2 linked regions of the Homo sapiens genome follow. The protein of the gene in region 1 interacts with the protein of each later gene in a biochemical or structural test. Each region holds a gene or a part of one and is shown in the gene's direction. Other genes may lie near its edges.

Region 1 (4,363 bases):
CAGCTAGGCTTCTTGTGGGACCCAAACTGCTCCCCAGCTCCCAGTGGTGCTGGAGCTCAAGAACCATCTTGGCCCAGATTCATTCAAAGGAGTTGAGATGAGCTTTCTGGATGACTGGTGGCCTCCATAGGAAAGGGGAATGGGGGTGTTTCTTCCTCTGTTTCCCACCTCTTACTCCCCTCTCCCTTTTGTTTAAGGAATTCTGGAAGTTGCTAGCAGCCAGGGTAACATGTATACCCCCTTGGGGGTGGTGGTGGGGTTATAGGAGGATCCCCTCACCTAGCTGTGTGGTGTATTTGGCAGACGAGAATTCTACCACTGAACCACCCTAGCACCTCTGGGTGTATGTGTACAGCCTGCTGCTTCAGGATCCTCAAGGCCAGTCTCGATGATATCCCGATCCACTGTAGCACTGTTTCCTGCCTTAAAGGTTTGGGACACTGAGATTAGATGCCTGAGCTGGGCCCATTAGAAGGAACACCTTAGGATAGAGAACAAGAAGTTCAGCCTGCTGTGTGCTCCTTGGGCACTTCCTTTAGAGATGGGAAACGGCCTCAACAGTTGTGACTTGTTCAAGGTCAAAGACCTTGGTGTCTGCCTTAGGTCCACTGCTCTTTGCGCCATTCAAAGCTGTGGGCTGATAACCACAGCACAAGCTGCTGAGCCCATCTGATAGTTCTCTCCACCTCGTTATGGTCCCTGTCCCTAGGGCATCCCCAGCTCCCCGTAGTCCCTCCCTGTCCTGAGCCTACACCTCGGCGGCGTTGGGATGAACTGACAATTATACCAGGAGGGGGTTGACAGCATTCGCCCCCTCCAGTGTCTAAACTCAGTTACTGGCACTCGGTTTTGTCTTGTCGCACTGCTCTGAGGTGCGCCAGTAGCTCTGGCGCCTCCGGCGTACACCACGCAGCCCACTACTGCGGAAGGAATGGGCCTGGCTCCAGGACCTCGTGGAGTCCGGAAGGTGCCCGGTGGTGGCAGAGCTCCCCAACCAGGGCTAGAAGCCGTCGCAGAACACCCGTTTTGCGGGAGGACAGGGGGCGGAGGGAGGGAGTAACAGCCCTGAAAAGGTTGGAAGTCCAGGGACAGCCCTGGGCTCCGTGGGGCAAAGAATTGGAAGCCGCCGATCCTCCGCCTTTATTCGTCGGGTAAATAAGGGTCGAGGGTACAGACGCACGGGTGTCTACTGCGGGGTGAAGGAGCTGCCGCAAGATGCCACCCGGCGCCGGCCTTTGTGGCTGCTGTCATGAATATTCACGATGCTTTGGGCCAATCAACGTCTGAACAGCTTAAAGCACACCAATCGGCTTACCGCATGCAGATAAGCATCGTAACGCGCCGCTTTTCCTGAAACGGGCGGGGACTGGACAGCGGCTAGAAACGGAACCCAGAGTCGAAGGAGCTTGGTTTCCGGAGGAGTGTGTCCGCGCAATTGAACGACTTTATGTCACTTCCTATCGGATCGGCGGAAGTTGCTTCCGAGCGCGTTGAGCTTTGGCGAAGTGGGTTCCGGTGGTGGCAGAGGTGCTTGTGTTTTTGTCGGTACAGGAGAGTCGCTATGGCGGCGGTGGATTCGGATGTCGAATCGCTGCCGCGTGGGGGGTTCCGCTGCTGCCTCTGCCACGTTACTACAGCCAACCGTAAGCGGTGGCTAGTGAGGGACCCGGGGGTGGTTGCGGGCTTTCGTCTTTTGATCCTGGCGAAAGTTAGGGTTATAGGTAGTCAGTCGTTCTTGTCAAGTTGATTGGTAGGGTCTCTCACCTCCGTTTTTCTCTGCAAGTCCGAGGGGATTTGGAGAGTCGGGAAAGTTCCACCACATTACACTCCTCAGTATATGAAATCTCCACAACGCAAGTTTAATTGTTTTATTACTTCTTTAACCATCATCTATTGGACATATGCTCTGTGCCTGGTATTCTGCTGATCTTTAGGGTGGGGGAGGGGGGTTCAGAGATGAAGGAGCTCACCGTCTAGAGAATGAGAAAGTTTCAATGCTTTATAGATATGTTCGGAGAACTGTGGGACCACAGAGAATTAGTAACTAAATCAGAGAAGCCCTACAGAGGACCTACTCAAAGGAGGGGATGGATGAAATAGGTGTGGCATGAATGACTAGACCATAAGGTACCAGTGAGGAAGAGACAGAAGATGGGTTTGGAAAAATAGACAAGGTTCTTGTATGACACACAAGGGGTTCACTGTAACTTCAAATTCCACTTTTTTTTTTTTTTTGAGACAAGGTCTTGCTCTGTCACCCAGGCTGCAGTGCGGTGGTGTGATCTTGGCTCACTGCAGCCTCAACCTCCCGGGCTCAAACCATACCCCTGGCTAGCCTCCCAAGTAGTTGAGTCTACAGGTGTGCACCACCATACTTGGCTAATTTCTTTTTTCTTTTTTTTTTTTTTTTGAGACAGAGTCTCACTCTGTCACCCAGGCTGGAGTGCAGTGGCACGATCTTGGCTCACTGCAAGCTCCACCTCCTGGGTTCACCCCATTCTCCTGCCTCAGCCTCCCGTGTAGCCGGGACTACAGGCACCCGCCACCACGCCCGGCTAATTTTTTGTATTTTTTAGTAGAGACGAGGTTTCACCATGTTAGTCAGGATGGTCTCGATCTCCTGACCTCGTGACCCGCCCGCCTCGGCCTCCCAAAGTGCCGGGATTACAGGCCTGAGCCACCGCGCCCGGCCTACTTGGCAAATTTTTTAGTTTTTTGTAGAGATGGGTTTTCACCATGTTGCCTAGGCTGGTCTCCAATTCCTGGCCTCAAGCGATCTTCCCATCTTGGCCTCCCAAAGTGCTGGGATTACAGGCGTGAGCCAATGTGCCCAGCCCTACTTTTGAAGTCTGGAATCACAGTGTTCCCTAAACAGGGTTTACTTCCATTCTTCCTTTTCACTGTGAATGGCACTATCACTGTTCATCCAGTAAGCCAAGCCAGAAACCTAGGAGTCTTCTTTGGCCCCACATTTACTTTGGTGACATCAAGCAGCTAACTCAATAAAATAATAGCAACGGTTAGTTTTTCAACATTTACCGTGTACCAGACTCTCTCTGCCAAGTGATATATCTGAATAATACCTGTGTGTGAGGTGCTAGATACTGATATTTCCATTTTATATCTGAGGAAGTTGATGCACAGTGAGGCTTCATAACTTGACCAAGGTCTCACACAGGTTGACAGAGCTGGGATTTGAACTTGGGCAATGTAATTTCAGATCCTGCCTTTGACATCACTATATTATACCATGTCCAAAGATGATCCACAAAGTATTCCATGATCCAAATTTTTTTAGTTCTTGTGTAGATGACCTGGATAAGTTACCTGTTAATTTGTTTCCAACTCTACCTAGCACAAATAGGTGGTTTAAGAAATACTTTACTATCACACTGTTCTTTAAGTAAAAATAAACAAAATACTTGTAGTGTAGCCAGTTCTCCTGGGAACCCTCGTCTCTACTAAAAATACAAAAATTAGCCGGGTGTGGTGACACACGCCTGTAGTCCCACCTACTCACGAGGCTGAGGCAGGAGAATTTCTTGAACCTGGGAGGCAGACGTTGCAGTGAGTGGAGACTGCGCCACTGAACTCCAGCGGGGGCGACAGTGAGACTCTGTTTAAAAAAAATAAATTAAAAAAAAAAGAATGTACTATTTAGACAAATGTATAAGAGAGGAAGGTGAAAGGAGCCAGGACTTTGTTTATTCAAAGGTCACAGTTTCTGTGGCTTGGAAGGATCAGTAAGATTTAGGTATGCAGAGAGCAAAGGCAGACACGTCGAAGAGTGCTTTGCATGTTTTTGTCTCACACTTGTCTTTGCAGGACCCAGCCTTGATGCCCACTTGGGAGGCAGAAAGCACCGGCACCTGGTAGAACTACGAGCTGCGAGAAAGGCCCAGGGACTTCGAAGTGTGTTTGTCAGTGGCTTTCCCAGGGATGTGGATTCTGCTCAGCTCTCTGAGTACTTCCTAGCATTTGGACCTGTGGCCAGTGTTGTCATGGACAAGGACAAGGTAAAGTGAATGGCTCTCGGGTTAAAGAATGAATCAGTGCTGGGCGCGATGGCTCACGCCTGTAATCCCATCACTTTGGGAGGCTGAGGCAGGCGGATTACCTGAGGTTAGGAGTTTGAGACCAGCCTGGCCAACATGGTGAAACCCCATCTCTACTAAAAATAAAAAATTAGCTGGGTGTGATGGCGCATGCCTGTAGTCCCAGCTACTTGGGATGCTGAGGCAGGAGAATCGCTTGAACCCGGGAGGTGGAGGTTGCAGCAAGCTGAGATCGTGCCACTGTGCTCCAGCCTGGATTACAGAGCAAGACTCCGTCTTAAGAAAAAAAAGAATGAATCAGATGTGCT
Region 2 (3,811 bases), on another chromosome or scaffold:
CAAAAAAATTGTGAGATCCTGAAAAATATTTTTATTTCTTCCAAGGCTCAGATCATGTTTTTTTCCTTCCATTAGGTGCTGCAGAGCTTCAAGATAATGGATTACAGCCTCTTGATGTCAATCCATAATATAGATCATGCACAACGAGAGCCCTTAAGCAGTGAAACACAGTACTCAGTTGATACTCGAAGACCGGCCCCCCAAAAGGCTCTGTATTCCACAGCCATGGAATCCATCCAGGGAGAGGCTCGACGGGGTGGTACCATGGAGACTGATGACCAGTAAGTGGGCTCAGGGCCACTAGGGGGGAGAACATAGGCCCACAGCACTTTTCTTTTCTTTTTTTTTTTTTTTTTTTTTTAGTTTCACTCTTGTTGCCCAGGCTGATGTGCTGATGTGCAATGGCACGATCTCAGCCTACTACTACCTCCACCTCCTGGGTTCAAGCGATTCTCCTGCTTCAGCCTCCTGAGTAGCTGTGACTACAGGCACCTGCCACCACACCCAGCTAATTTTTTGTATTTTTAGTAGAGAAGGGGTTTCATCATGTTGGGCAAACTAGTCTACGAACTCCTGACCTCAGGTGATCCACCCGCCTTGGCCTCCCGTAGTGCAGGGATTACAGGCGTGAGCCACCGTGCCCGGCCACAGCACTTTTTCTTTAGGAAGGGACCCAGCTTCTGGAAAGGAGTAGCCTTGACTCAGCAGTTGGATCAGTAACATTATTGTTGACAGAAGTATAGAATGAGCTTGAACGAGCTTTCTTAATACAAAATGAAAAGAAGATTAATTTCGGGTTTATAGTATATGTGGGAAGGAGAGCTGTTCAAGAGTTAAAGACTTAAAAAATTATAGTCTTAAATGCATGTCTGCAAATTATATTAGAACTTTATTAGGGCTGGGCACAGTGGCTCATGCCAGTAATCCCAACACTTTGGAAGGCTGAGGCAGGCGGATCACTTGAGTCCAGGAGTTTGAGATCAGCCTGAGCATCATGATGAGACCTCATCACTACAAAAACTCAAAAATTACCTGAGTGTGATGGTGAGCACCTGTGGTCCCAGCTACTCAGGAGGCTGATGAGGCAGAATTGCTTGAGCCCAGGAGGTCAAGGCTGCAGTGAGCCACTGTACATGCCACTGCACTCCAGCTTGGGCAAAAAGAATGGGACCCTGTGTCAAAAAAAAAAAAATTGTTATAGACTTCTTTGTGGAAGGCATCCTTCTTCATCATGCCTAGTAAGTGTAATTACTGAAGTGTCACAAATATCTTAGATTGTTTCATTTTTTTAAGGTATCCTGTAATATGACTCTCAAGAAGAGTGTCTTAGTGGGCATAAATTAAGATAGCAAAAGTACTGAAGAAGTTGAGTTAATTAGGAGAGCATTCCCAAAATTGCTGAGTAGTGGCAATTTTAGATTCTCTTTGGTGGAATCAGAGTGGAAGAGGTAGGCAAGAAGATTTGGAGAAAACTAGATTATAATACATACTGTAGAGAGTTCCTGGGGTTAGAGGAAGGATCTCATTTTCTCCTGTTTTTTTAATGTATTTTTTTCTCTTTTTGTTTTCTTGATCACTTATTATCTGACCTTCTGGTTTATGGAGGATGAGGCAGTTATGTGTAGGTTTCACTTCCCCATCCTGATCTGACTAAACTAGCCAACAGATTTTCTCACCCTTTCCTTTTTGCCTTTTCCAGTATGGGTGGCATCCCTGCCCGGAATAGTAAAGGGGAAAGGCTTCTGCTTTATATTGGCATCATTGACATTCTACAGTCTTACAGGTGAGGAGCATATGGATCCCAAATTAAGAGAGGGTGGATACAGATAACCAGTCACGTTTCTCTTTTAGATAGGTTTGTTACCAAGTTCTTCCGGAAGCAAGAACAGTGAGTTGCAGTCTGGCTACTTACTTCATTAGTTTTCAGATGGTTTATTTCCTTGATTTTGCCTCTTTCCCCGGCCTTTATAACCCTTCCTCCCCCATCTCCCCAGACATAATGTATACCTTCTGTGGAAAGCTGAGTCAGTCCTTGGAAGCACCAGGGTAGAATATGCCATCTGTCTGGCTCTTTGCAAAAACCTATGAGATGAGTCATGTTCCACATGGGGATACAACTGGAAACGTTACCCTTTTCCAAGGAGGAAAAACAGGAGGGTCACTGTGTTCTGTAAAATGTATTAGACTGTGGAACTAAGAGGCAATGGAGTGATCATCAGGGAGGAGCTGGAATTGTTAGACCCCAGTTTTGTTCCTGTAAGGTTTTAAATACTAATGAGGACTGGACGGTACTTGATTTGTTGGTTCAGTATTATCATCCAGTTTTAACTACCCTTTCCAGTCTTGCCCATCTGTTCCTTCAGCTCTCCTTTTATAATAAATATTCATGTTCCTGATTTGTCAGGGACATAAATTGCCCTTTTCCCATGGGGGGAATAATTGACTTACCTAGAAACAACATTGGTCTCTGTGATGAACCAGCACTGCCATGCCTGTTCTTGGGAAAACCAGTGTACCAGTAGATGTGCTTTCTCAGCTTCTGTCTTTTCAAGATTTTCTATTACCCCTTTAACCCCCTAAAATATAAAGTTATTAAGGTCATTTATTTAAAAATGACGTGAGTAGGTGATGTACATTTTTCTTGCAGGTTTGTTAAGAAGTTGGAGCACTCTTGGAAAGCCCTGGTACATGACGGAGTAAGTAGTAATACTAGAGGCTCTCTTACCGTACACTTCTGCCTCCATCACTTCTGATTGGCCTCAGTTTCTTGCAATTTTTTCTTTTTTCTTTTTTCTTTTTTTTTTTTTTGAGACAGGGTCTCACTCTGTCACCCAGGCTGGAGTGCAGTGGCGTGATCTCGGCTCGCTGCAACCTCCGTCTCGCAGTTTCAAGTGATTCTCCTGCCTCAGCTTCCCGAGTAGGTGGGACCACAGGCGCGTGCCACCACGCCCAGCTAATTTTTGTATTTTTAGTAGAGATGGGTTTCACCATGTTGGCCAGGCTGGTCTCAAACTCCTGACCTCAAAGTGATCCGCCTACCTTGGCCTCCCAAAGTGCTGAGTTGAGATGGAGTCTCGCTCTGTCACTCAGGCTGGAGTACAGTGGCACAATCTCAGCTCACTTCAACCTCCATCTCCCAGGTTCAAGCAATTCTCATGCCTCAGCCTCCCATGTAGCTGGGATTACAGGTGCCCACCACCATGCATGGCTAAGTTTTGTATTTTTAGTAGAGATGAGGTTTTGCCATGTTGAACAGGCTGGTGTCGAACTCCTGACCTCAGGTGATCCGCCCACCTCAGCTTCCCAAAATGCTAGGATTACAGGTGTGAGCCACTACGTCTGGCCCCTTCCGTTTATTTCATCTGTAGGTTTTACCCTTCTGCTAGGGGCTCAGTCTGGGGGAAGATGGCCCTTGGACTAGAGTTCCTCTTGCCGGGCCTCCTAACTCTATAGCATTTCTTCTGCTCTGCAGGACACTGTCTCAGTGCATCGCCCAGGCTTCTACGCTGAACGGTTCCAGCGCTTCATGTGCAACACAGTATTTAAGAAGATTCCCTGTAAGTGGTTTCTACCAATTGACTGCCTACTCCTGCCCAGTGGCTCCCTTACCCCAAGAGAACAGAGGGCAGGACACCTCTGGTAGGGAGCTGCCAATGCCAGAGGCCTCTCCTTCCACCTACATCCCATGAGAGCCATTTCTTGTCCTTTGTGTTAGTCTGTCATAGTCATTTCCAAGTTGCTGTTTCCCCCTTGGCTCTTCCTGCATATGTCAATGAGGTGAGGACCATTTCTGGGGAATTGGGATTTGCAA

The links.
Region 2: the proteins of TUT1 (region 1) and PIP5K1A form a complex in vitro, tested with the Homo sapiens proteins (one study listed by IntAct).

The regions. Positions count from the first base shown.
Region 1 is NC_000011.10:62,588,684-62,593,046, reverse strand, and holds the start of TUT1 (speckle targeted PIP5K1A-regulated poly(A) polymerase), read left to right. Parts: upstream 1-1,523; 5' UTR 1,524-1,561; coding exon 1,562-1,643; intron 1,644-3,825; coding exon 3,826-4,016; intron 4,017-4,363. UniProt on the Homo sapiens protein: Poly(A) polymerase that creates the 3'-poly(A) tail of specific pre-mRNAs. Localizes to nuclear speckles together with PIP5K1A and mediates polyadenylation of a select set of mRNAs, such as HMOX1.
Region 2 is NC_000001.11:151,236,483-151,240,293, forward strand, and holds part of PIP5K1A (phosphatidylinositol 4-phosphate 5-kinase type-1 alpha), read left to right. Parts: intron 1-75; coding exon 76-281; intron 282-1,699; coding exon 1,700-1,783; intron 1,784-2,647; coding exon 2,648-2,696; intron 2,697-3,472; coding exon 3,473-3,557; intron 3,558-3,811. UniProt on the Homo sapiens protein: Catalyzes the phosphorylation of phosphatidylinositol 4-phosphate (PtdIns(4)P/PI4P) to form phosphatidylinositol 4,5-bisphosphate (PtdIns(4,5)P2/PIP2), a lipid second messenger that regulates several cellular processes such as signal transduction, vesicle trafficking, actin cytoskeleton dynamics, cell adhesion, and cell motility.